Linked DNA regions of Homo sapiens. The protein of the gene in region 1 purifies or fractionates together with the protein of each later gene. This does not show direct contact. Each region holds a gene or a part of one and is shown in the gene's direction. Other genes may lie near its edges.

Region 1 (2,427 bases):
TCACTGCTCAGTGGTAAAGCCAGGATTTAGGCTGAGGCAGACTGGCTCCGGAAAGACCGCCTAAACCATGACAATAGCTCTGAAGACATTTATTGAGTCCCCAGTATGGGTTCATCATTGTTCTAGGCAGTAATGACATATACATAAATATTTGAAAATGTTATTTCAATGAAGTCAAATCTTTATTCGGATAGTGAGAAGGTAAATTTGCTTTACTTTAAATGTAAATGAATCCACATAAAATGTTTATTTTAAAAAGCAAGCGTTCAACATTACATCACGTATCGGTGTTAACTGTGTTACTGAAAATGTTCAGGTAAAAATGAAATGACCTCGATGAATTAGGAGAAAGTAATTTTTAATTAAAACAAAACACTTGAAACACTCTTTTTGTTTCAAAAAGCATGGGTCCACAATTCAGGTATATAAGAATAAGCTGCCATTCTGACTTTAGTCTCTGGACTCATTTACAAAGAGACCCGGGGGACCTCCACGTCTTCGCAGAGGACCCGATCCGCTGATCTGTGGCGCCCTGGCTTGCGGGGAGCAAGCCAAGGCCAAGACTTTGGCCTCTCCAATAAAACCTAGTGGCTCTTTGCAGGCCCATAGCCTCAAAGACAAAAGATATTTTGGCTAGGCGAGCTTGTTCCTCCCGTCAGCACAGGAAGCATTCACGTCTGGTCATCACTCTAGCTTCAGACTCAAAAGTGAACGATTGGCTGGCTGTGAGCCGCAGGACCCTGCGGGGAGACCAGGGTGGTCTCTACACTGTTGGGTAGCTAGCTGGAGGCAAGGCGCTTGTATAAGAAACAGTCCACGGACCCTGTCCTGGGCAGGCAGAATTCCGCGGACAGGCTGTTGTTTCGCCTAAGCAGCACGGGCTGCGGAGACAGAAACCTACCTGAGTAGTACGGTGTATTATATGAGAACATCCACTTAGCATAGCAACGTCTACGGACAACCCCTGTAGCTCTTCTTCTGGATTGTTTTCTGTTTCCAACCATGTTTTCTTATTTCCTACGAGTTTATGTGCTTGGAAGCGAGCGTGGTCGTGGAAAACCCGTAACCGCTAAATTCATCTGGGTCCCCAAAGACTGAGCCGGCTGGCCTCGTTATTTATGTGAGCGGCTATGTAAATGAGGATTCGGAGATTGCTCTATTGATTGGAGAGAGCTGGAGGAGGCGGTCTCTCTTCCAGAGCGCTAGTTGGGAGCGGAGCCTGCCTGTCATTGGTCACCAGAGCCAATGGAAAGGGGCTGCCGCGCGGCCGTAAAGAGTTTGTAGAGGCAGTTCGGGTGCGGTACGTTGCATTCCGGTACCGGACGCCGAGAGCGGTTTGTCTCCGTCTCTGGAGTTGTAGGCGAGAGGTGATCATGTCCGGTCGCGGGAAACAGGGCGGCAAAGTGCGAGCAAAGGCCAAATCCCGCTCCTCCCGCGCGGGCCTGCAGTTCCCGGTGGGCCGAGTGCACAGACTGCTGCGCAAAGGGAACTACGCGGAGCGAGTGGGCGCCGGGGCGCCGGTGTACCTGGCGGCGGTGTTGGAGTACCTTACGGCGGAGATCCTGGAGCTGGCTGGCAACGCCGCGCGTGACAACAAGAAGACCAGGATAATTCCCCGCCACCTGCAGCTCGCCATCCGCAACGACGAGGAGTTAAACAAGCTGCTGGGCAAAGTGACCATCGCTCAGGGCGGCGTCCTGCCCAACATCCAGGCCGTGCTGCTGCCCAAGAAGACGGAGAGTCAGAAGACGAAGAGCAAATGACCCTGACGCCGCCCTCAGGGAGCTGGCTCCCCCAGCAAAGGCCCTTTTCATGGTCGTCCCGCAATGCTTTTGAATGTGCTGGATGTCATGGAGGGCCGGTGACATCTAGCGGGGAGGTGGGCGGCGAGGGTCCCGGCGGGAGCCAATAAAGTTGGTGAAAATCGTTTGGTCGAGAGAGCTGTGTAGTCGCGGGGACATGTCGGATGGCCCCAGGGGAGGGGGGCGACCGGGAAACCCCTGGAGCAGGCACTGGTGGGTGGGCTTGAGCCACTCTGGACGGCTTTAGTCCGCAGGTCACCCTCGAGGCGTCAGGGGAGGGTGGCCTGGAGGTGGGCAGGGTGGAAGCCACCTCGCTGTCAGTAGGGCAAAGGGGAGGCAGAGTCGGTGCGGTGAGGCCTCCTTCGGAATTATTTTTACTTCCCTTTCACAGAGCCTTCGCTCTCCTGCCAGTTTGTGAGCACTCAGGACCAAGTTCTGGGAAGATACCGTCGGATCGAGCTGAGCTCGGGGCAGGAAGTGTCTGCGGCCATATTTTTCAAAAAGTGGAGTAACTTTCCGTCTTGGAAGGGTGGCTCTGATGGCACGATGTCAACTTGAGATTCTTCCTAGCCTAGTAGCTGCTGTGCTTTCATGCTTTGGATATCAGATATCTTTATATAGCACT
Region 2 (3,500 bases), on another chromosome or scaffold:
GCAGCTGTATTTGTTCAGCTGTTTTTTTTTTTAATTGCTATTAACCTTATGAACTTAGTGGTAAAAGTAAATGGTGTGTGTGTCTCTTATCCTGTTTTAAACTTAATGGAAAGGGCATGTTGCTGTGAACAAATGGAGTGTATTTGTATTTGTCTCCTCTAATCATTAATAATTAATTTTCTCTTAAAATATTGAAGCCTAGAATTCTGGTAAAGCCAAAAGTTTATGCTGATCATTGGGACGTTTTACAGTGTGAAAGGTGGCATTTGGTCTAGGTAGATTGTTTTGCTTTGTTCAGATCAAAGTCTTTCTTTTTAGAAATGGAACCTGGTCAGACCCTGAGGCGACATAATGAGAAGCCAAGAAAGGTTGAGGGACCTCACTAGGGAAGTCTCAGAAAAGCAGCCATTAAGATAGCAGGCTTTCAGAAAGAACTGAGAGGAAATCATGATCATAACATTAGCTTTATGATGTGTTATTTGAATTGCGTACAGACAGTAGGAGGAGTTAGCTGGCCATGCAACTATTTAGTAAATAGCTCTTCTTGCTGCCCACATACTTGCAATAGGAAGTAATTGTAGGCAGAAGCCAATAGTTGTGAGTGTCAGGAACCATGAGTGAGGAGGAATGATGCTACAGAGAGAGGGTTTCAGGGATCCACTGGATGATAGAGGGCTTATTTTTACTTAATGCCAAGGGGTTATGTGAGTACCATGCACATTTATAATTGACTTACAAATAAAATAATTAGAAAAATCTTCAAACAGTTGGACAAAAGACAGGCCTAATTTATAGAGAGTTAACAACACGAAGAAACATTTACTAATAAAACAATAAATTTATATAGCTAGGAAATACTGTCATACAGATATTTTAAATGACACTTTTAAATGACACTACCCAGTGCTGCCCAGTTGCATTAAAATGGACATATCCCACATTGTAGTGTATACTGGTACAGCTCTTTGGAAAAATAATTAGCCCTAAATATCAAAAGCCATAAAATTGTTCATACCTTTTGATTCAGTAATGTCATTTGTGAAATTTTATCCTAAGGAAATAATTCAAAAGAAGAACTACGTGGGGGGGAAATGTTTATTGAAGTATTACTTATAATAGTAAAAAACAGGAAACAAGTCTTAAGTTGAAGAGTAGGTAAGTAAAATATGTTTTATTACAAATTAGAACACAGTAATATCTGTACATTAAAATACATGCATGGGGGCCAGGTGCGGTGGCTCATGCCTGTAATCCCAGCACTTTGGGAGGCTGAGGCAGGTGGCTCACCTGAGGTCAGGAGTTTGATACCAGCCTGGGCAACATGGTGAAACCCTGTCTCTTCTAAAAATACAAAATATTAGCCCGGTGTGGTGGCGCACCCCTGTAATCCCAGCTCCTCCACAGGCTGAGGCATGAGAATTGCTTGAACCTGGGAGGTAGAGGTTGCAGTGAGCCAAGATTGCACCACTGCACTCCAGCCTGGGTGACAGAGCAAGACTCTGTCTCTAAATAAATAAATAAATAAATAAAATACAAGCATGAGGATTTTACAGTGAAAATACTTGGTTTAAGTTGCTGAGATTATGGATGATTTATTGTACCCTCTTAAAATGGACTTTGTTTTTTAACATAAATATTAAGGGCAATTAAATCATTTGTTTACTGAATGGATGTGGTTTGCTGCCAGGTCTGGCTTTGAACTGGTGATTGTTATACTTGTTTTTAGACATTTCTCTTGGGAAGTTGTGCATCTGACAGGAATATAGTACTGTACGATATGAGGCAAGCTACTCCTTTGAAAAAGGTGAGTTTCAGTTTTGACTTTTGCTTTATACAGTTGGCATTATATATTTCTCTGTAAATAGAGTGACTAACAATATGGAGCAAATATTTTCTCAGAATTAAAAAAATCTTTTATACAGGTGTTCTTAGAACTCTACATGATGATAGTCATGTTCTTTCAGCTCCCTATTGCTTTTTAGAGACTCTTAAATTTCTGCTAGGTATTGTATCCTAGTCACCAACCTTGTGTCTTCCATGATGCCAGTACATTTTAGGCCTCTAATTAATACTTACTGAATTGAAAGTTCTTAAAGGTATTGCATCCTGTTACTTAACAGTGTAATAATATTCAAATAATATTCAATAAATTCAAGCCCCATGATTATCGTATGACATGTACACTATTTTATTCCAGAAGGTTTTAGAACTCATTCACGTAACCAGCTTTATTTGTTCAGTTACATGCTGATCAATACTAGTTTGACATTTAGGCAACCACTATCCTGTTCAAAGTAACAGATTTCCTAACAATTCTAAAGTAGTAATTTCAGGACTTACATATCAGAGCTAATAATACAACTTAAGCTAACTCTCAAGAGGGAGACAGATACTGTCTGTAAGTAAGGAAAGGAGTGCCATTGTAAGTAAAAGGGTATAAAGTTTATTTCAGGTACTAGAATTTTGAGTGACAGAAAGGGCTGGACATCATTGAGATGCCACAAGTCTGTTGTCGTAGTCCACATACAAAAGAAATGCTTTTAATACTTGCTTTTGTTATTCCTAAATCATTTTTATAACGTAACAACTAGATATTAGGAGAGTACATTCATTGAAGTTTGAAGTAGATAAATATGATAATCTTTCCAAAGTACCACTTATATGATTTCACTCATTCATGTGATTTAATGGGAAGATCCTATATGAACTTTGGTCTTAGACTTTTAAGCACGTTAACCTAAAATGTGTTTCTCCTGTAAGGTGGTGGTATTAATAACTATCTCGCAGCACTTCGCTGAGAATAAAACATGATACTTTAAGCATTTAGCAGAATGCTGACATGAGGTACTAGTTTAATGAATAGTCATTTCTGCCCCCTCCCACCTACCTAACACTCATTCTGTTTTTTTTTTAATTTAGTTTATTTTTCATTGTTATTGCCTCCTGCTTTGCACATTCTCAGTTTTTAATGGAGCTCCATTAATTTTAGGTTGAAGAAAATGTAGCCTGGCTTTCAAGGTGCTCTGAAATCTGGTTCTAATTTGCAACTCATTTATTTCTTTTAGTCAGTTAGGTAACATTGAATTGGAGTTTGTCACATGCAGGTCACTTTGATAGATGTAGGGATTGTTAGACACTGCTACTTTCTGTTGCTTCTTTGCTCCATCTACTAGTCTATCAATGTTTCTTTTATCCTTTCTCTCATAAATGTAGTAGTTCTTAGTCAGGGATTGTAGTCCCCTACCAGGTACAGTTCTGGGAATGCAAGAGGGACATGTAGTGGGAGGTCCCTGAGTGGCAAAACATCCTACAGTGGATAGTCATACACAACAAAAGATAATCCTGCTCAAAATGCCAACAGTGTTCCCATTGAGAAACACTGAATTACTGATCCTTCACAGGTCAGTTCAAATCATACTTGTCTTTAGAAACAGTTCTTTATGTTAACCCTAAGCTCACCATTAATTTTGCCCCTAATTTGATACTTAGTCATTTGTTAC
Region 3 (3,500 bases), on another chromosome or scaffold:
ATGTGATGATTCATCACCCTTAAAGAATTCCCGGCCGGGCATGGTGGGTCGTGCCTGGAATCCCAGCACTTTGGGAGGCCAAGATGGGTGGATCACTTGTCAGGAGTTCAAGACCAGCCTGGCCAATATGGTGAAACCCCATCTCTAACTAAAAATACAAAAATTAGCTGGGTGTGGTGGTACGTGCCTGTAATCCCAGCTACTTGGGAGGCCGAGGTGGGAGAATCGCTTGAACCTGGGAGGTCGAGGTTGCAGTGAGCCGAGACCGCACCACTGCACTCCAGCCTGGGCGACAGTGAGACTCTGTCTCAAAAAAAAAATAATAATAATTAGGCCAAGCATGCTGATGTGCTCCTGTAGTCCCAGCACTTTGGGAGGCTGAGGCCAGAGGCCAGAGGACCCCTTGAAGCCAGGAGTTCCAGGCTGTAGTGAGCCGTGGTTCTGCTACTGCTCTCCAGCCTGGGTGACAGAGCAAGACTCTGTCCACCCCCCACCCCCAACAAAAAGAATTTCACTATATAGATGTTTCTTGATTTTTCAAACTGGTCTGTTAGTTTGTGTTCAGTTTGTCACCTTTGTGAGAAAAAAAACACTCATAAGTTAGTGTGTACTTCCTACTTAATTTCTCCTGGGTCATCGTGAAGCACTCCCTGCCCTCCATGAGAACAGTATGTCACCCGCTCTCTTCCCTGTGCCAAGCCCATAAAGGGCTGTTGGCAAATATGTCGGACAAATAGACTCGCCTAAGAGGGCCTTTCTCTCCAAGCCCTCGCCAGCACAGGCTGTGTCACTTTCTTAGGTGGCACCTACCGTCTGTTGCACACTTGCCGCAGATGATTTGGCACAGGATGTCGCTTCAGAAAACCTTGTAGGAAGCTGTGAGGTCGTTACCGTCCCCATTTCACAGACAGGAAAGTGCAGGCCTTAGATGCACTGCCTGATACCCTGTGGCCCCCGCGTTCCTAGACAGATACACTGCCTGGTACACTGTACCCCCCCACCCCCGCTATCGTTTGCAGCTGGGGTTGAACCCTGCATTCATAGACAGGTTCCCCCTTGAGTGAGCCCCCCATCTGCTTAACTGAGGGCTTGTCCTGGTTATAAATGTCTGGGTGGGGGTGGGCACTGCTGGCTGCAGCTGTCAGGACTGGGAATGCTGAACCTGCACTGAGGGGAGTAGGCCCCAGAGATGCTCCCAAGACCCTGGAGACACAGGCCAGGTAGACACCTGTGTGTGTGTGTATATATATGTGTGTGTGTGTATATATATATATGTGTGTGTGTGTATATATATGTACATATATATATACACACACACACACATACATATAAAAGAGCCGGGCATTGTTTGTGTGTGTGTGTGTGTATATATGTATATATGTGTGTGTGTGTGTGTATATATATAGTGTGTATATATAGTGTGTATATAGTGTATATAGTGTGTGTATATATATATTGTGTGTATATATATCGTGTGGATATATATTGTGTGGATATATATATAGTGTATATATATTGTGGACATATGTATAGTGTGTATATATATTGTGGACATATATAGTGTATATATATTTTGGACATATATAGTGTATATATATTGTGGATATATATATAGTGTGTATATATATTGTGGATATATATATAGCGGGTATATGTAGTGGATATATATAGTATATATATATTGTGGATATACACACACACACAATAGCTGGGCATTGTAGTGCATGCTTGTAGTCCCAGTTACTCAGGAGGCTGAGGTAGAAGGATAACCTGAGCCCAGGGAGATTGAGGCTGCAGTGAGCCGTGATCAGTCGCTCCATTGCCCTCCAGCCTGGGCGACAGAGACCCTGTCTCCAAAAAAAAAAAAAAAAAATTGGCTGCAGCTCCAATTTGAGAAGCAAATTCTTGTGAGAGAAGGGTTTTTAAAGAAGAAACCCCATTCTCTCCACCTGAACTTAGGGTGGCCATCATCTCACTTGGCAATCCCTGCCTGGTCAGTAATCACATGAAACTGAATGAGAGTAGACAGGGTGTCTGGAAAAAGTGAATGCTAAAGCAGTACCTGTCACTGCCACTAGGATCCTGACTGAACCGGAATGGCCTCGGGGAGCAGCCTTTCAGGCTCCAGCAGTGGAAGGCGCTGCTGTGTCAGCGGTTACCAGACTGGCAGGACCCAGGACTGCTTTACACTCCTAAAAAGCAGGGAAGACCCCAAAGAGCTTTTGTTATATCTATTGATAGTCACCATGTTTGACATTTAAAAATGAGTCATTTAAATGCTGAAGTGCCTTCTATTTAAAATTGGAAACCAGCCGGGCACGGTGGCTCATGCCTGTAATCCTAGCACTTTGGGAGGCCAAGGTGGGCGGATCACCTGAGGTCAGGAGTTCAAGACCAGCCTGGCCAACATGGTGAAACCCTTTCTCTACTAAAGACACAAAAAAAATAACTCGGCATGGTGGCACACGCCTGTAATCCCAGCTACTCGGGAGGCTGAGGCAGGAGAATCCCTTGAACCCAGGAGGCGGAGGTTGCAGTGAGCTGAGATCGTGCCACTCCACTCCAGCCTAAGTGAGAGCGAGACTCCATCTCAAATAAATAAAGTAAAATTGTAAACCATTATATATTAACATAAGTAAACCATTTAGTGGAACCTGTTTTCAATGACGAAAACAATGAGAAAGATGGTTTTGTTTTCACAAATCTGTTTGGCTTAACTGACAGCTTCTGGATTCTCCTTCCGAATTCAAACTTAGTGTCTCCGTTCAGCTTCTGAAATGCTCTAGCATATACTCAGAGTGGCTGTGGAAACAGCATGGAATGTTGGTGTTGTGCAGACTGCTTTGATCCGGGGGCCTCCCAAAAGGACCCCTGGACCACGCTTTGAGAACCACTTCTCTAAGAGTTGTAAAATAGCTCTAAACACTTGGGGAAATTGATTACTTTTAGGAAGATAAGCTGTGTCTTTGAACAATTTTTAGTGGCTCAACCATGTGCTTGCCCCTTGGGGCAAGTGTGGAATCAATCTGATGCGCTGTCACCGGTAAAGCTGTTCCAGTACACACCTCTCCCTCAAAGTGCCCTACACAGCCCCTTGCTGAATCCTTTGCAGCAGTGAAAATCGGGGGTTGGGGGGAGGCAAGAGTAGGCTGTGCTTGGGGCCATGGAATTATGCAGGTCTCTAAGGGTGTGGACCGAGGAGAACATAAAGGAACAGTGATTTAAACCTGTAATAAACAGATGCCCTTGAGGGGAAGCAGCCCCCACAGTACCCTGCTGGGATGACCTCCCGCAGCGCACCCCACTCACATGGTACCCGGGGAGCTCACACTGCCACACTTGCGGCATGAGGTGGATTTCTTCATGGGGATAAGAACCTGTGCATTGTGGTCCTCACCAGGGCCCAAGTGGTAATCTTTTATTAAGAGCAACAGGAATCCTGGTATGTAGAATTGGGACCGTATCTTAAGTGTTTGAAACCATACTTTCTTTTTTACTGA
Region 4 (3,500 bases), on another chromosome or scaffold:
TCAGTAAAGGGACAGCATATAAGAAGTGTTTTTAACAATAAATTGCATTCCTTATTGCTAACACTGGCCAATTAAGGAAAAAATCTAATTATACTAGAAACAAAACCACATAAAGTTCTTGGAAATTACCTTAATAAACACAAATGACCTATGTGAAGTAAACTGTAACACTTGATAAATTTGAAAAACTTACATAAATTTTGAGGATACCATATTTCAAGCCAACCTAATAATTAAGAATCCAGGCTTTGCATTATTGCAGACCTGGGTTCAAATCTTGATTCTCGTAAGTGTTATGTGATCCTGGACACTTAATTAATCTCTCAAGTATGTTTACATCTTTCCAATATATCCAAATGGATATAACAATAGTATTGGTGATTGTAAGGATTAAGTATAAAGGAGCTTGAACTAAGTATTTAGTGCAGTGCCTGAAATAGCCCTGCCCTCAATCATTATTAGAGATTGAGTCTCCCTTATCCAAAATGCTTGGGATCAGAAGTGTTTAGAATTTCAGATTTTGAAATAAAATTGCATTATATATACTTACTGGATGAGCATCGCAATTCCAAAATCTGAAATGCGCCAATGAGCGTTTCCTTTGAACCTCACGTTGACAGTCAAAAAGTTTGGAATTTTGGATTTGGGATTTGGGATGCTCAACCTGTATTATTCTGTTTAAATATTTAAAGATGTTATGTCTACTGTTCTAGGGTAATTTTGATCAAAATCCCAGTTCAAGTCAAAGTTAAGAAAAAGGATACCAATAATCATCTAAAAGAATAAACAAATTAAGAGTAGCTAATAAACTATTTTTTTTTTTTTGAGATGGAGTCTCGCTCTGTCGCCCAGGCTGGAGTGCAGTGGCGCAATCTCGGCTCACTGCAAGCTCCGCCTCCCGGGTTCACGCCATTCTCCTGCCTCAGCCTCCTGAGTAGCTGGGACTACAGGCGCCCACCACCACGCCCGGCTAATTTTTTGTATTTTTAGTAGAGACGGGTTTTCACTGTGTTAGCCAGGATGGTCTCGATCTCCTGACCTCATGATCCGCCCGCCTCGGCCTCCCAAAGTGCTGGGATTACAGGTGTGAGCCACCGCGCCTGGCCTAGACTAGCTAATAAACTTTTGAGAAATCATGCTAATATAAAAACTCACCCTGTCGCTTCTCGGCCTTTTGGCTAAGATCAAGTGTAAAAACTCACCCTACAAGTTACAATATCTAAACATTTCATGATGCTATGGGGGTTGACAGGTTTGGGTAAAAATGGGACAAATTGGTAGAACAGAATAGATAGAAAGAGTTCATATGATAACTTAGATCAAAATAGGCTGCTTGAATATTTGGACAAATGAACAGGTCATTGGATAGAGAACTTGGTTCAGATCTTCACCTCCTAATAGCTCCAGCGAAATTCTAGATGAAGCAAAGGAAAAAAAAATTAAAAGTCAAGCCAAAGAAACAATTTAAAAACCCTGTGTTTTAGGCAATAGTGAGAATTTCTAGACTTAGAAAAGAGGAAAAAAAAGAATCAAAAGATGTGACTACATATATATTATAAACTTACATATTAAACCTATTGTGTATATACTATTCAAGTTAGTAAGAAAAACTTGGATCATCTTGTTGATAAATTGCATATTTCAGACAGTTTAAAAAAGCATGTGTTCATTAACAAATGTATATTAAGCCTAGTAGTATCAAAACAATGTCATTAATACAATTATTTCTTGACTCTTAAAGTAGGCAAGATTTTAGAAGATACCACACCTGGTGAGAGTGAATTCTTTTTCTTATATCGAGACTATACCTAATCTGTATAAGGTTGTCGTCAGTTCTGTTCTATTTCTTTAAAAGAAAGCACTGGATAAATGGTATGACAGAGATAAGTTGGTTATTACAAAATTGATCTTCATTATATGTTTATTTTTCTGTATTTCATGTAAACTAATTCAGTCATTTTTCATGTGTGTGTTTTTATTCACATTTCCTTGAGCTTAGCATCTTGTTTTGCTTTTAATTTTTCGTTTGGATCTCGGAACCATCTTGTCCCAGGTGGTATGTGGAGGAGATACTCTTATTTTTGTTTCCAAGCCTCGTATCTTGTTAGTCTCTAGCCAAAGTGATCTATTTTTAAATAAAATTTCTCAAGATGCTCTAGCTTCCTATAGTGGATTTGGAAGTGAGTCACCCTTACTGTTTTCATTGAGTCAAGTTGTGACTTTTAGAGTTCCTGACTTCGACAGGTCTAGATATTTGTGTAAAGGAATGTACAAATTACATTGATCCTATTTTTTTCTGTTTAGATATATCCTTCAGAATTTGGAAAGGAGAGGATGAAGGAAGAGCAAGTTCAAGGACCAGTAGAGCTATTAAGTATTCCTGAAGATGCCCCAGAAAAAGACTGGTATTAAATCACTATAGAACATAAAACTAAACCTCATAAATTCATGTCATTAGTTCAGAATTCTGGTCACCTTAATAGTTAAAACTAAAGTTTATACTTGTGCCATTCGTGGTTAAAACAGGTTGCAAAACAGATTTAAAGTCTGTTAAAAGTGGTACATTATTCCAAGAAGATTTTTGTTCGTGTATATTTCTATTTCTGTATTCATGAAAGTAATTATTGCAGTTTTTGAAAAACATTTCATGATTAAACTGATTTGGAGTTCTTTTGAATTCTTTCAGCCTCGTTGCTCTGAATTAGTACGTTTTGCTTTTTTTTTTGAGACATCATTGAAGCTCTGTTTGCCTTCAAATTATATAATTTTTTCTTATTTGAGAATCAAATAGAAAAGTGAAAGAATGATAAAACTTTTTTTTTTATCATCATGGTGCAATATAGAAAATAATTTAAGATAGTTTTTAAGCCACTAGGTGGAGCTATATTTGCACTTAATAAAAATGAGGGTTAAATAGATTAGTGACAGGAGAGAGCAGATGAAGACCTTCAAAGAAAGAGTTGTATCAGTGCTTTGTGTGGAACCTTAAAAAAAAAAAAAAAAAAAAGAATGTGTTGTAGTTAAGCAAAATCAAACTTATAGACTCTTAAGCAAACATTTTGCAAGATCAGGAATGTCTTTTAGCTAATGGTTTTCTAGCATATTTTATAATAGAATTATCTTTATTGGTTTTACTTGAGAAGGCAGTGTGTAATAGCAAAGTAACTATTCTGTGAGTTAAATTATAGATAAACACACGAATTCCCACACACTCCTTTCCTAGATACCAAATTCCAATCCAAATATCTGTACCTTGTGAGAATAATAAGTTGAGCTTAAGTATTTAATGTTTATAAAGGCAAAGTCATGAAGGAAAGATGGTTTGGTATGAAGGCCAGCTTGTAATATGTTTTTCTTGAAAGAATTACATTTATTTTTTAAAGGGAAATTTTTGTGTTTCTGTATAAGTATGCTTAATAAGTTTTTCCCACTTTAGGACGTCTAGAGAAAAATTGAGAGATTATCAATTCAAACGACTGAAGTACTATTATGCAGTAGTA
Region 5 (4,060 bases), on another chromosome or scaffold:
ATTTGAGAGTTTCCAAAATGTTGTGGGTAGGAGAGCAAAACAATAATATTTGGGTTTTAGAAAGTAAGGCATAAAATAATTTGTTCATTAAATCAAAGGAAGTAAGAAGATCACTTGGGAAAGTTATAATCCAAAAATAGTTAAGTATTTGAGTTTCAGCAGGAGGAATGAAAACAGATTACTTTAAGGAAATATTTCATAATTAGAAATATCCAGGTTTAGATACTGAAAGTGAGGGCCAGAGATAGGAATGGGTTGAAGATGACGCCACAGTCTTCTTTTTTTTTTTTTTTTTTTTTTGAGACGGAGTCTCACTCTGTTGCCCAGGCTGGACTGCAGTGGCACGATCTCAGCTGACGGCAACCTCTGCCTCCCGGGTTCAGGCGATTCCCCCACCTCAGCCTTCAGAGTAGCTGAGATTACAGGCGCGCGCCACCAGGCCCGACTGATTTTTGTATTTTTAGTAGAGACGGGGTTTCACCATCTTGGCTAGGCTGGTCTTGAACTCCTGACCTCAGGTGATCCGCCCGCCTCGGCCTCCCAAAGTGTTAGGATTACAGGCGTGAGCCACCGCACCCGGCCTACAGTACTTCTAACGTAACATCGCAGAAACACTGGAGGAGAGAAGAGAATACACTTCCACTCGGAATTCGCACCCTGGTCGCCTTCATTCGCTGGGTTCACTCGCTGAACTGCCTCGCCCCCGCCCGGGAGGATGACATCTCGGCCTGGGCAGAGACTCGAAAGCCTCCTCCTGCCGCTCGGGATGCTAACAGCAGGGAGAGCTGTGTCTAGTTTTTTTTTTTTTTTTTTTTTTTTTGAGAGGGAATCTCGCTCTGTCCCCCAGGCTGGAGTGCAGCGGCGCGATCTCAGCTCACTGCAACCTCCGCCTCCCAGGTTCAAGCAATTCTCCTGCCTCAACCTCCCGTGTAGCTGGGACTACAGATGCCGGCCACCACGCAAGGCTAATTTTTTTGTATTTTTAGTAGAGACGGGGTTTCACCATATTGGTCAGGCTGGTCTCGAACTCCCGACCTCAGGTGATCCGCCCGCCTCAGCCTCCCAAAGTGCTGGGATTACAGGCGTGAGCCACCGCGCCCGGCTTGTGTCTAGTCTTGCCCGTAGCAGCGTCGCCGACAGCCACGCCGGGTTGTCAGAGCCTCACTAGTTTTTCTCCCGGCCGCCGCTCTTCCCGGATTCAGCCACCTTCCCTCTTCCGGGAACTTGCCCGCGTGTTCCGGCTCCAGGAAGTGCGTCATCAGTCGGCGCCAGCGGCCGCACGCCGCGGAGCAGGGGCTCGGAGGTCCCGGGATTACGGTGCTCGAGCACGCTGGTGGGAAAGGACCCGGGACTTGAACAGTGTTGTGCGGCGCCATGCAGGTCTCCAGCCTCAATGAGGTGAAGATTTACAGCCTCAGCTGCGGCAAGTCCCTTCCTGAGGTGAGTCACTTCCCGGCCCCCTCACTCTCGAGCTCTTGGGGGTCGTCCTCCTCGTGGGGCAGCCGCCCCTCTCCTCGGCCCTAGCCTCTGTTTTAGCTGGACGCTGGTCACCCCCCGACTCGGGGAGGCCCAGAGGCGGCTGACAATTTCCGGGGGAGGTGTCGGCATTGGGAGACAAGGACACTGCCGTCACCGCGCCAGAAACTGGACCAAGGGATAATCAGGGTCAGTGAGCTTTGCTGGAACTTTTGTAAAGTTCTCTGTTCCAGAGAACGCAACCATTTGGGCCTCTTTGGGTGTTCACAGTCCCTGCCGTACATCGAGGAGGAAAACGTGGCAGATTCGTTGACACATCTCTCCCCCATATGGCCATCAGCTGTTTGTGGAGTCCCTATCATTTGCCAGGTCTTAGGGATACAACAGTGAACAAGGGAGATACAGACTTCGCATCTGCAGAATTTATGGTGTAGAGGACAGTATTTTCGAGACTTGTTGAACTTAACCTGATTCCTAGTCTTAAAGTTGGAGAGGGCTTGGACAAGTCGGTAATTCTCTTCCAATCTTCTCGTGTTTAGTAATGCAGCTGAGATTTAATAATGCGTTTAATATGCAGCTGAGATCCAGCAAGGGGAAGGGTGACTTGTCCAGCATGACACACTTAGGCTCTGAAACTTGTCTTTTGTTTCTTATACGTGATGATCCAGCCTCTGTCCAAGCACTACCACTGAGCACTACCTTTTGTGGAAGCTCATTTCCATTTTGAGACTCTGCACTTGTTAGAAAGTGGTTTTCAAATATGTCACCTTATAGCATGCCACTGTTGGCCTGAGTCCTGCCCTTGGAAAACAGAATAAATATAGCTCTCCTTCCATGCGTCTGCTTCTACAAAAATTTGGAGCCAGTGCTTAGGTTTTTCCTTTCTTCCTAAAATTCTGGTTTGAATAATTCCCTGTCTTCCAGTTGTTCTTCACACCCCATGAGCTTTCTCATTTTGTTCATTCATTCTCCACATGTATTGAGAAGTTACTGTGTGCAAGCAACTCTGTTTTAAGTATTGGGATCTATAGTGGACATTTCAGATAAGGTTCCCTGTTGGGGAAAAGGGAAATAAACAAGTGAGCAAATAAGGCAATTTAAGGTAGTCAAAAAGTACTTTTCGTGGTGAATGATTAGAAGAGAGCTGTTTTGGATAAAATATTGAGAGAAAGTGTTTTGGATAAAACCTTCGGGGAAGGCCTCTCTACAAGAGGTGACATATGAGCAGAAACTTGGATGATGAAGAGGAGCCAGTCGTGTGAAGATGTGGGGAAGAGTTTTCAGTGCTGAGAACAGAAAGTGCAAAAGCCCCACATGGGAATGCACTGGACATGTAGGAGGACGGAAGAGGCACAGGTGTGATTGCACTATGCTGAGTGAGGGGGCGAGAGCAGGGTGGATGAGGCTGGAGAGGTAGGCCTGGTAGGAAAGGTAGGAAGTTCAAGTTTTATTCTTAGTGCTGCTGGAAGTCACTGTTGTGTGGGCTGCTGTGCGACAAATGTCTAGCTGGGGAGGGTTCAAGTCGGGATGAATTAGGTAGTCCAGGTGAGCGACTTCGGTGGCTTGGGCTTGCCTGGTAACAAAGAAGATGCTAAAACACAGTGAGATTCAGGACATACTTTGTAGATAGGGTAATGGAACTTGCTAATGGATTGGACTGTTGGTAGAGGGAAGTTGAGGTGACAAAAAGGAAGGAATCAGAGAACTCTTCAGTTTTGAGTCTGAACAAGTGGGTGCACGGTGGTGCTGCTAACTGACATGGAGAAGAATCAAGAAGGAACACATTGAAAGGTGGAGAGGAGGAACGTAGTGAGCAAAAAGAATCAAGATTTTTTTTTGAGGTCGCGTGCAATGGCCTGATGTTGGCTCACTGCAACCTCTCGGGTTCAAGCGATTCTCCTGCCTCAGCCTCCCCAGTAGCTGGGACTACAGGCACGTGCCACCACACCAGCTAATTTTTGTATTTTTAGTAGAGACGGAGTTTCACTATGTTGGCCGGTATGGTCTCGATCTGATCTTGTGATCCACCCACCTCGGCCTCCCAAAGTGCTGGGATTACAGGCATGAGCCACTGCACCCGGCCCAAGGTTTTTATTTTCAATAGTGAACATTTGAAGTTCTAATACATACCAAATGGAGATGTTGAGTAGTTAGCAGTTGCATGGATACTAGGATGGAGATTGCAGGTGAATTTACTGTCGTTATTTGGGACTAGGTGAGATCAAATTGTGAGAGAAAGAACAGAGAAGATAACTAGGCTGAGGACCTGAGGCAGTCTTAGCATTTGTCATCCAAGAAGAGGAGGGGAACCCAGCAAAGAAGAAAGAGTAGTGGGCACTGATGGAAGGGGAGACTGGGAAATGTGTAGTTTTGTAGAAGTAAGTGTTTCAAGGAGGAGGTGGTGGTCACCTGTGTCAGCTGCTACTGAGAGCTTCAGTAAGATGAAGGCAGAAAAATGACCATCGACTTTGGCATGATGCAGAGCGCCCTTGACCTTGGCAAGGAGCTCCAGTGGAGTGGTGGGGAGGGTAGCTTGAGCTGAGTGGATTTGGAAACCCCTGCTTGTCCTGTTTAATATTTTCTG
Region 6 (2,446 bases), on another chromosome or scaffold:
TGAAAAGGAGGGAGAGAATTATCTTCGTTGAGTGGCATCTGAGCTGTAAGCATTGTATATACATTATCTTTTGTCATTGTGATGGGGTCTTCCTGGTTCCTGCTAGTATTTATGTGCTTTTTTTTCCCCTCAAGACTGGAGCAGTTATTAGCCCCAATAGCCAATCATTAAGCCTAAATCCTAATTCACAGTAGCATTGTGGGCTTCCTGGATCCTCAGCCAGAATAGGGTTTTTACAACTTAACAATAAAAAATGAGACGTCAGAGGGGAAGTATAGTAACTAGTGTTGTTTTGATTAAGAAGGGGATGAAACACAAAAACCAAAAGAAGTCTGTGGAGGAGGAGGAGCTAGGGCATGTTCTTCTGAGACTTGAGCGAGAGGAACCTTGGGAGTGGGAGGTTGTGGGGAAGTTAGAGGCTGCAAGGGCTGTTGAGGTAGTGAGAGGGACGGATCCCATGAGGAGTCTGGCATGGGGGCTCTGATTTAGCCTCTTCCCTGCAGTGGACAATGAGGAGGCTGCACTGCTGCATGAAGAGGCTACCATGACTATTGAAGAGCTGCTGACACGCTACGGGCAGAACTGTCACAAGGGCCCTCCCCACAGCAAATCTGGAGGTGGGACAGGCGAGGAACCAGGGTCCCAGGGCCTCAATGGGGAGGCAGGACCTGAGGACTCAACTAGGGAAACTCCTTCACAAGAAAATGGCCCCACAGCCAAGGCCTACACAGGCTTTTCCTCCAACTCGGAACGTGGGACTGAGGCAGGCCAAGTTGGTGAGCCTGGCATTCCCACTGGTGAGGCTGGGCCTTCCTGCTCTTCAGCCTCTGACAAGCTGCCTCGAGTTGCTAAGTCCAAGTTCTTTGAGGACAGTGAGGATGAGTCAGATGAGGCGGAGGAAGAAGAGGAAGACAGTGAGGTAAGGGCCTGTGAGGGCAGGCAGATGCTGAAGTTGCAGAGAGGTCCTGTTTGGTTGCCGTCTGTAGTTTTCAACTCTCTTTCCTTCTCCTATTTTGACATCATCCCCCAAGACCCACTGTATTCTAAGCTTTAGTCTTGAATTCATTGAGCTCCATCATCACAGGTACCATTTGCCTTTTTACCTCTTCCTTTGTTGGTACTATAACAAGCAGATCTAGTTCTGGCTTTTCAGAGTCTGTCTCCTAGAGAGAGAACAAGGAGATAGTTGTTACCTTGGCTAGTTGACTGTTTTCTTCTCTGGAAAATTTATTTTCTGGCCACAGTGCCTGAAAGATATTTTTGGCTGGCAGCCCTTGCCTTGTCCTGGGCTTTTTGCTAGTGACTGCTAAGCCCAGTTCAGGATGTCAGTTGTACTCATGCTAGCCCTTTCCATCCCCCCAATTTTCATGACCATATACTTGTATCTTTCAGTGTTTTGAGGACCTGTGTTCAGTCAGGACCTCTTGATTCTGAGTATGAGCTGTGGGGAGGGAGGGGATCATCCCAGTCTCAGCAGTCTGGGATCCTCCCCCTGGCAGGAATGCAGCGAGGAAGAGGATGGCTACAGCAGTGAGGAGGCAGAGAATGAGGAAGATGAGGATGACACCGAGGAGGCTGAAGAGGACGATGAAGAAGAAGAAGAAGAGATGATGGTGCCAGGGATGGAAGGCAAAGAGGAGGTGTGTGGGGAAGGGGAGCAATGAGTCTTGAAAAGCCACAAGGCAGGTGTGAATCCCCTAATTTTGATTTTGAGACAGGGGATCCCCCTGATACTTTAGGATGGAAGTAATAGTCATGGGGATTTATTCTGCAAGGGGAATGAGATGGTAAGCCTTTGGGGTTGAATTATCTAAAAACAAGGGAGAGGGAGTGTGCTGCTGTCTCTAGAAAGATGAAATGTGTGCTTCTCCTGTTTGTTAAAGCTCTTTTGGGGGTCCCAGTGAAAGCAAGCATAGGTGAACGATCAGGAGCACATCAGTGAGGAACGCATGTTCAGAAGCCCCCATGATGCTCCTTTTCTTCCTCTTAAGCCTGGCTCTGACAGTGGTACAACAGCGGTGGTGGCCCTGATACGAGGGAAGCAGTTGATTGTAGCCAACGCAGGAGACTCTCGCTGTGTGGTATCTGAGGCTGGCAAAGCTTTAGACATGTCCTATGATCACAAACCAGAGGATGAAGTAGAACTAGCACGCATCAAGAATGCTGGTGGCAAGGTCACCATGGATGGGCGAGTCAACGGGGGCCTCAACCTCTCCAGAGCCATTGGTAAGGGCCAAGAAACTGGGAAAGACTTCTAGGGTCTTTCTCTCTGTCCCAGACTACCTAGTAGCAAACTTTAATCTTCCTAGTGCTTGTGCCTTTCAAAGCACTTTAATATCTACTACCTCTGTTCTTATATTTCTGTGAAATAACTAAGATGGGTAGAGGTATCATTATACATAGGTATCATTATACCCATCTTATGTAACATTTGAATGATGAAAAA
Region 7 (3,500 bases), on another chromosome or scaffold:
TTTTGTTAATTATGACCCAATATAGTTGTGGCAAAAAAGAACATACTATGTTAATGCTAGATTAGAATTTTTGAATCTTTTTACATAGATTATCCCTCCTCCCTCTTCCCCTGCCTGAGAAAGCAGATTTTTTTTTTCATTTTACATATGAGGAAATATTCAGAAAGATTTATTAAGTTGACCAATTAGGTTAATACGTTCTAGAGTTTGTCCTGGAACCTAGGTCTCTGATCTCTGAGCATTTGTTTCTCTAATCTATGCTGACATCTTTAAAAAGTGATGGTGGCCAGGCACGGTGGCTCATGCCTGTAATCCCAGCGCTTTGAGAGGCCGAAGCGGGTGGATCATGAGGTCAGGAGCTCAAGACCAGCCTAGCCAACATGGCGAGACTCCCCGTCTCTACTGAAAACACAGAAATTAGCCTGGCTTGGTGGCGCCTGCCTGTAATATCAGCTACTCGGTAGGCTGAGGCAGGAGAATCACTTGAACCTGGGAGGCGGAGGTTGCAGTAAGCTGAGATCACGCCACTGCACTCCAGCCTGGGAGACAGAGCAAGACTCCATCTTGGGGGGTGGCGGAAGTGATGGTGATTACTGGGATGCATTAATATCAGAGGTGTTTTGTTGTTGTTGTTGTTGTTGTTTTTTGGTTTTGTTTTATTGGAGACAGCATCTTACTCTGTTGCCCGGGCTGGAGTGCAGTGGTGTGACCTTGGCTCACTGCATCCTTGACCTCCTGGGCTTAAGCCGTCCTCCCTCTTGAGCCTCCTGAGTATCTGGGACCACAGACGCATGCTACCACACCCGGCTAGTTTTTGTATTTTTTTGTAGAGACGAGGTTTTGCCATGTTGCCCAGGCTGGTCTTGAATTCCTGGGCTCAAGCAATCTGCTTGCCTTGGCTTCCCTTTGTAACACCTCCGAAAGGTATAGACGTGAGCCACTGTGACCAGCCCTTCAGCTGTCTTCTAAAGAATGAAATAGTTTTCAGATATTTTGCTTAACTAGAAGAAGGCAAAAAAGTAGGTTCTGTGATTGGATAAGTTTTGGAAATGTTGGAGTATAAAAAGTTAAAACCACTTTCTTTCCTGTAAGACTTCTTTGTTCTTAATAAGCTAATGTATATTGTGTTGCTAGATAAATGGGATAAATTAAGTGACGTTTTCTGAACTTAACTACAAAACTGTTTCTTAGGACTATTGTTACAAGAACACACTTCAAGAATATTTGCTTTTGTTAACTCCAGTGCTATTTTAATTACTTCAAATTACTTCATTTTCTAAGTTTATCTTTATGATTTTTCATGACTGTAGTTTGTAGAAATACACTTACAAAATAACATGGTACATGCCTGCACGTTGTATTTATATAAATGCCAAACAAAAGTTTTATGATGTTAAGGGACTTCTGGTATTTTCCATTCCATTTCATTTAAAAAATGCTGGTTGTGGTTGAACACTATGGCTCATACCTGTAATCATCACAGCATTTTGGGAGGCTGAAATGGAAGAATCACTTGAGTCCAGGAGTTTGTGACCAGCCTGGGCAATGTAGTGAGACCCCATCTCTTAAAACAGTAAATAAATTAGCGAGTGCCTGTAGTCCTAGATACTGGGAGGGTGTGTGGGGTGGTGGGGGGAGGGGCTGAGATGGGAGGGTCACTTGAGCCCAGGATCTAGGCTGCAATGACCTATGATGACACTGCTGCACTGGGCAACAGAGCCTGGGCAACAGAGTGAGACCCTGTCTCAAAAAAAAAAAAAAAAAAAGCTGATTATGACTGTTAAAGTGATTTCATGATTCACTAATGTGGCAACCCTCAATTTGAAAAACACTAGTCTATGTGGTCACTTAGAAATTTCTTTTTCTGAGGCAGGGTCTTGCTCTTGCTCAGGCTGGAGTGCAAGGATGTGATCATAGCTCACTCCAACCTTGAACTCCTGGGCTCAAGAGATTATCACTTTTTTTTTTTAAACTGCTTTCTTAAGTTCATTTCTTGGTTTTGAGGGATAGTGGCAAATCAAATTTGCAGAATTCTCTAGTTCTTATTTGTTTCAAATTTATGGCACTATGTGGTCACGTTGTTGCTATTTCTTTAGTAGTGCCCCGAGATTCAAAATAATTAAGCAGGAAGCTTGGAAGTCTTCTAATTAGACTAGGCAAGAACTAAATGCAGTATTTTTTAGTGTTTAAGTAAGCATTAGTAATAGACTATAAAGTTTCATCTTTTTTATTAGATTGCTGAGCTGAAAAGAGGTGCTGAAATTATTGTTTGCACACCTGGTCGAATGATTGACATGTTAGCCGCTAACAGTGGTAAGTCAGGGGTATTTTTTTGGTGTCTTTTATTTTTGAATTCTTTACTTTTTTTTGTTAAAACAGATGCAAGAAACCAACAAAGGGTTTCTATATTTCTTCTTAAAGCTGCAGTATCTTAAAATTTGTAGCCTGTAGTCCCAGCTACTTGGGAGGCTGAGGCAGGAGAATAGCTTGAACCCGGGAGGCGGAGCTTGCAGTGAGCCAAGATCGCACCACTGTACTCCAGCCTGGGTGACAGAGTAAGACTCCGTCTCAAAAAAAAAAAATAATAATTGTAACAAGTTGATTATTACAAGCATTAATGATATTTTTGCAATTTAAAATTTTTTTTCAGAAGTAACTCCATCTGATCATAACTTGGATTCTTAATCCAGTTTTGGCCTGGCTTTGCTTAGTAAAAGAGTGGGGTAGTAGCTTTTTCTTTATTACAAAATTTAGACTTTTTCTCCACATGAGCTAGTATTTTCTTAGATACTACATAAATTAAGATATTGCAGCTTCAAGAAATTTTATCTTTTGTAAATATTGCATGTTTGTAGCTCAAATGTTATGCTTTGTTAAATTATTCCCTATCAAAACTCTTACTAAACTGTTGACATTATTTAACTTCTGTGGAGAAAGGCCCTTCAAGATTTATAGAACTGGGCTTCCGAGACTTAAACCATCAAAGGTAGGTAATTTAATGCTGTTCCCGACCTTGCAAAACTAATTGGGGCTACAAATGCTAGTGTGGAATACTTAAATATTAGATAGCACTTATTTTGGCACTTTTTATTTTTTGAAGAAAATGCTCTCAGAGGTTTCCATTGCAATATTTAGTGTGTACATAATAGAGTATTAAAAACTGAGTTAGTGCATGTTTCTAGTAGTATTCTGCTTGAATTTCTAATTCTAATTGTACATGAAGTTGGCAAAGTGACATCGAAATTGAGAAGTCATTGTGCTTGTCTAGCATATGGAAAGTTTTGGTTTGAATGCTGATTAAATAATCCCTTTTTTTTTTTCTCAATGCTGCATTGATTAAGTCTCCTCCTGAAATTCATCTTGATTAATTTTACCTTTTTCTCTTATCTGTCATTGTGGTCTATTTTTAAATAACTATTTTATACGTGTTTTTGCCAGGTGATTGATTCAACAGTTGATAGCAATGCTTCTGTTAATATTTTAGAAGGAATTTCCTATGT

The links.
Region 2: the proteins of H2AJ (region 1) and DCAF13 purify together in Homo sapiens (affinity purification with mass spectrometry; one large-scale study listed by BioGRID and IntAct). This does not show direct contact.
Region 3: the proteins of H2AJ (region 1) and DIDO1 purify together in Homo sapiens (affinity purification with mass spectrometry; one large-scale study listed by BioGRID and IntAct). This does not show direct contact.
Region 4: the proteins of H2AJ (region 1) and ESF1 purify together in Homo sapiens (affinity purification with mass spectrometry; one large-scale study listed by BioGRID and IntAct). This does not show direct contact.
Region 5: the proteins of H2AJ (region 1) and NOL10 purify together in Homo sapiens (affinity purification with mass spectrometry; one large-scale study listed by BioGRID and IntAct). This does not show direct contact.
Region 6: the proteins of H2AJ (region 1) and PPM1G purify together in Homo sapiens (affinity purification with mass spectrometry; one large-scale study listed by BioGRID and IntAct). This does not show direct contact.
Region 7: the proteins of H2AJ (region 1) and DDX46 purify together in Homo sapiens (affinity purification with mass spectrometry; one large-scale study listed by BioGRID and IntAct). This does not show direct contact.

The regions. Positions count from the first base shown.
Region 1 is NC_000012.12:14,773,098-14,775,524, forward strand, and holds H2AJ (histone H2A.J), read left to right. Parts: upstream 1-1,307; 5' UTR 1,308-1,373; coding exon 1,374-1,763; 3' UTR 1,764-1,927; downstream 1,928-2,427. UniProt on the Homo sapiens protein: Core component of nucleosome. Nucleosomes wrap and compact DNA into chromatin, limiting DNA accessibility to the cellular machineries which require DNA as a template.
Region 2 is NC_000008.11:103,428,886-103,432,385, forward strand, and holds part of DCAF13 (DDB1- and CUL4-associated factor 13), read left to right. Parts: intron 1-1,726; coding exon 1,727-1,804; intron 1,805-3,500. UniProt on the Homo sapiens protein: Part of the small subunit (SSU) processome, first precursor of the small eukaryotic ribosomal subunit.
Region 3 is NC_000020.11:62,920,006-62,923,505, reverse strand, and holds part of DIDO1 (death-inducer obliterator 1), read left to right. Parts: intron 1-3,500. UniProt on the Homo sapiens protein: Putative transcription factor, weakly pro-apoptotic when overexpressed. Tumor suppressor. Required for early embryonic stem cell development.
Region 4 is NC_000020.11:13,771,420-13,774,919, reverse strand, and holds part of ESF1 (ESF1 homolog), read left to right. Parts: intron 1-2,304; coding exon 2,305-2,405; intron 2,406-3,436; coding exon 3,437-3,500. UniProt on the Homo sapiens protein: May constitute a novel regulatory system for basal transcription. Negatively regulates ABT1.
Region 5 is NC_000002.12:10,687,176-10,691,235, reverse strand, and holds the start of NOL10 (nucleolar protein 10), read left to right. Parts: upstream 1-1,260; 5' UTR 1,261-1,374; coding exon 1,375-1,440; intron 1,441-4,060.
Region 6 is NC_000002.12:27,383,146-27,385,591, reverse strand, and holds part of PPM1G (protein phosphatase 1G), read left to right. Parts: intron 1-503; coding exon 504-919; intron 920-1,499; coding exon 1,500-1,640; intron 1,641-1,991; coding exon 1,992-2,226; intron 2,227-2,446.
Region 7 is NC_000005.10:134,786,279-134,789,778, forward strand, and holds part of DDX46 (probable ATP-dependent RNA helicase DDX46), read left to right. Parts: intron 1-2,234; coding exon 2,235-2,313; intron 2,314-2,937; coding exon of another isoform or gene 2,938-2,990; exon of another isoform or gene 2,991-3,336; intron 3,337-3,500. UniProt on the Homo sapiens protein: Component of the 17S U2 SnRNP complex of the spliceosome, a large ribonucleoprotein complex that removes introns from transcribed pre-mRNAs.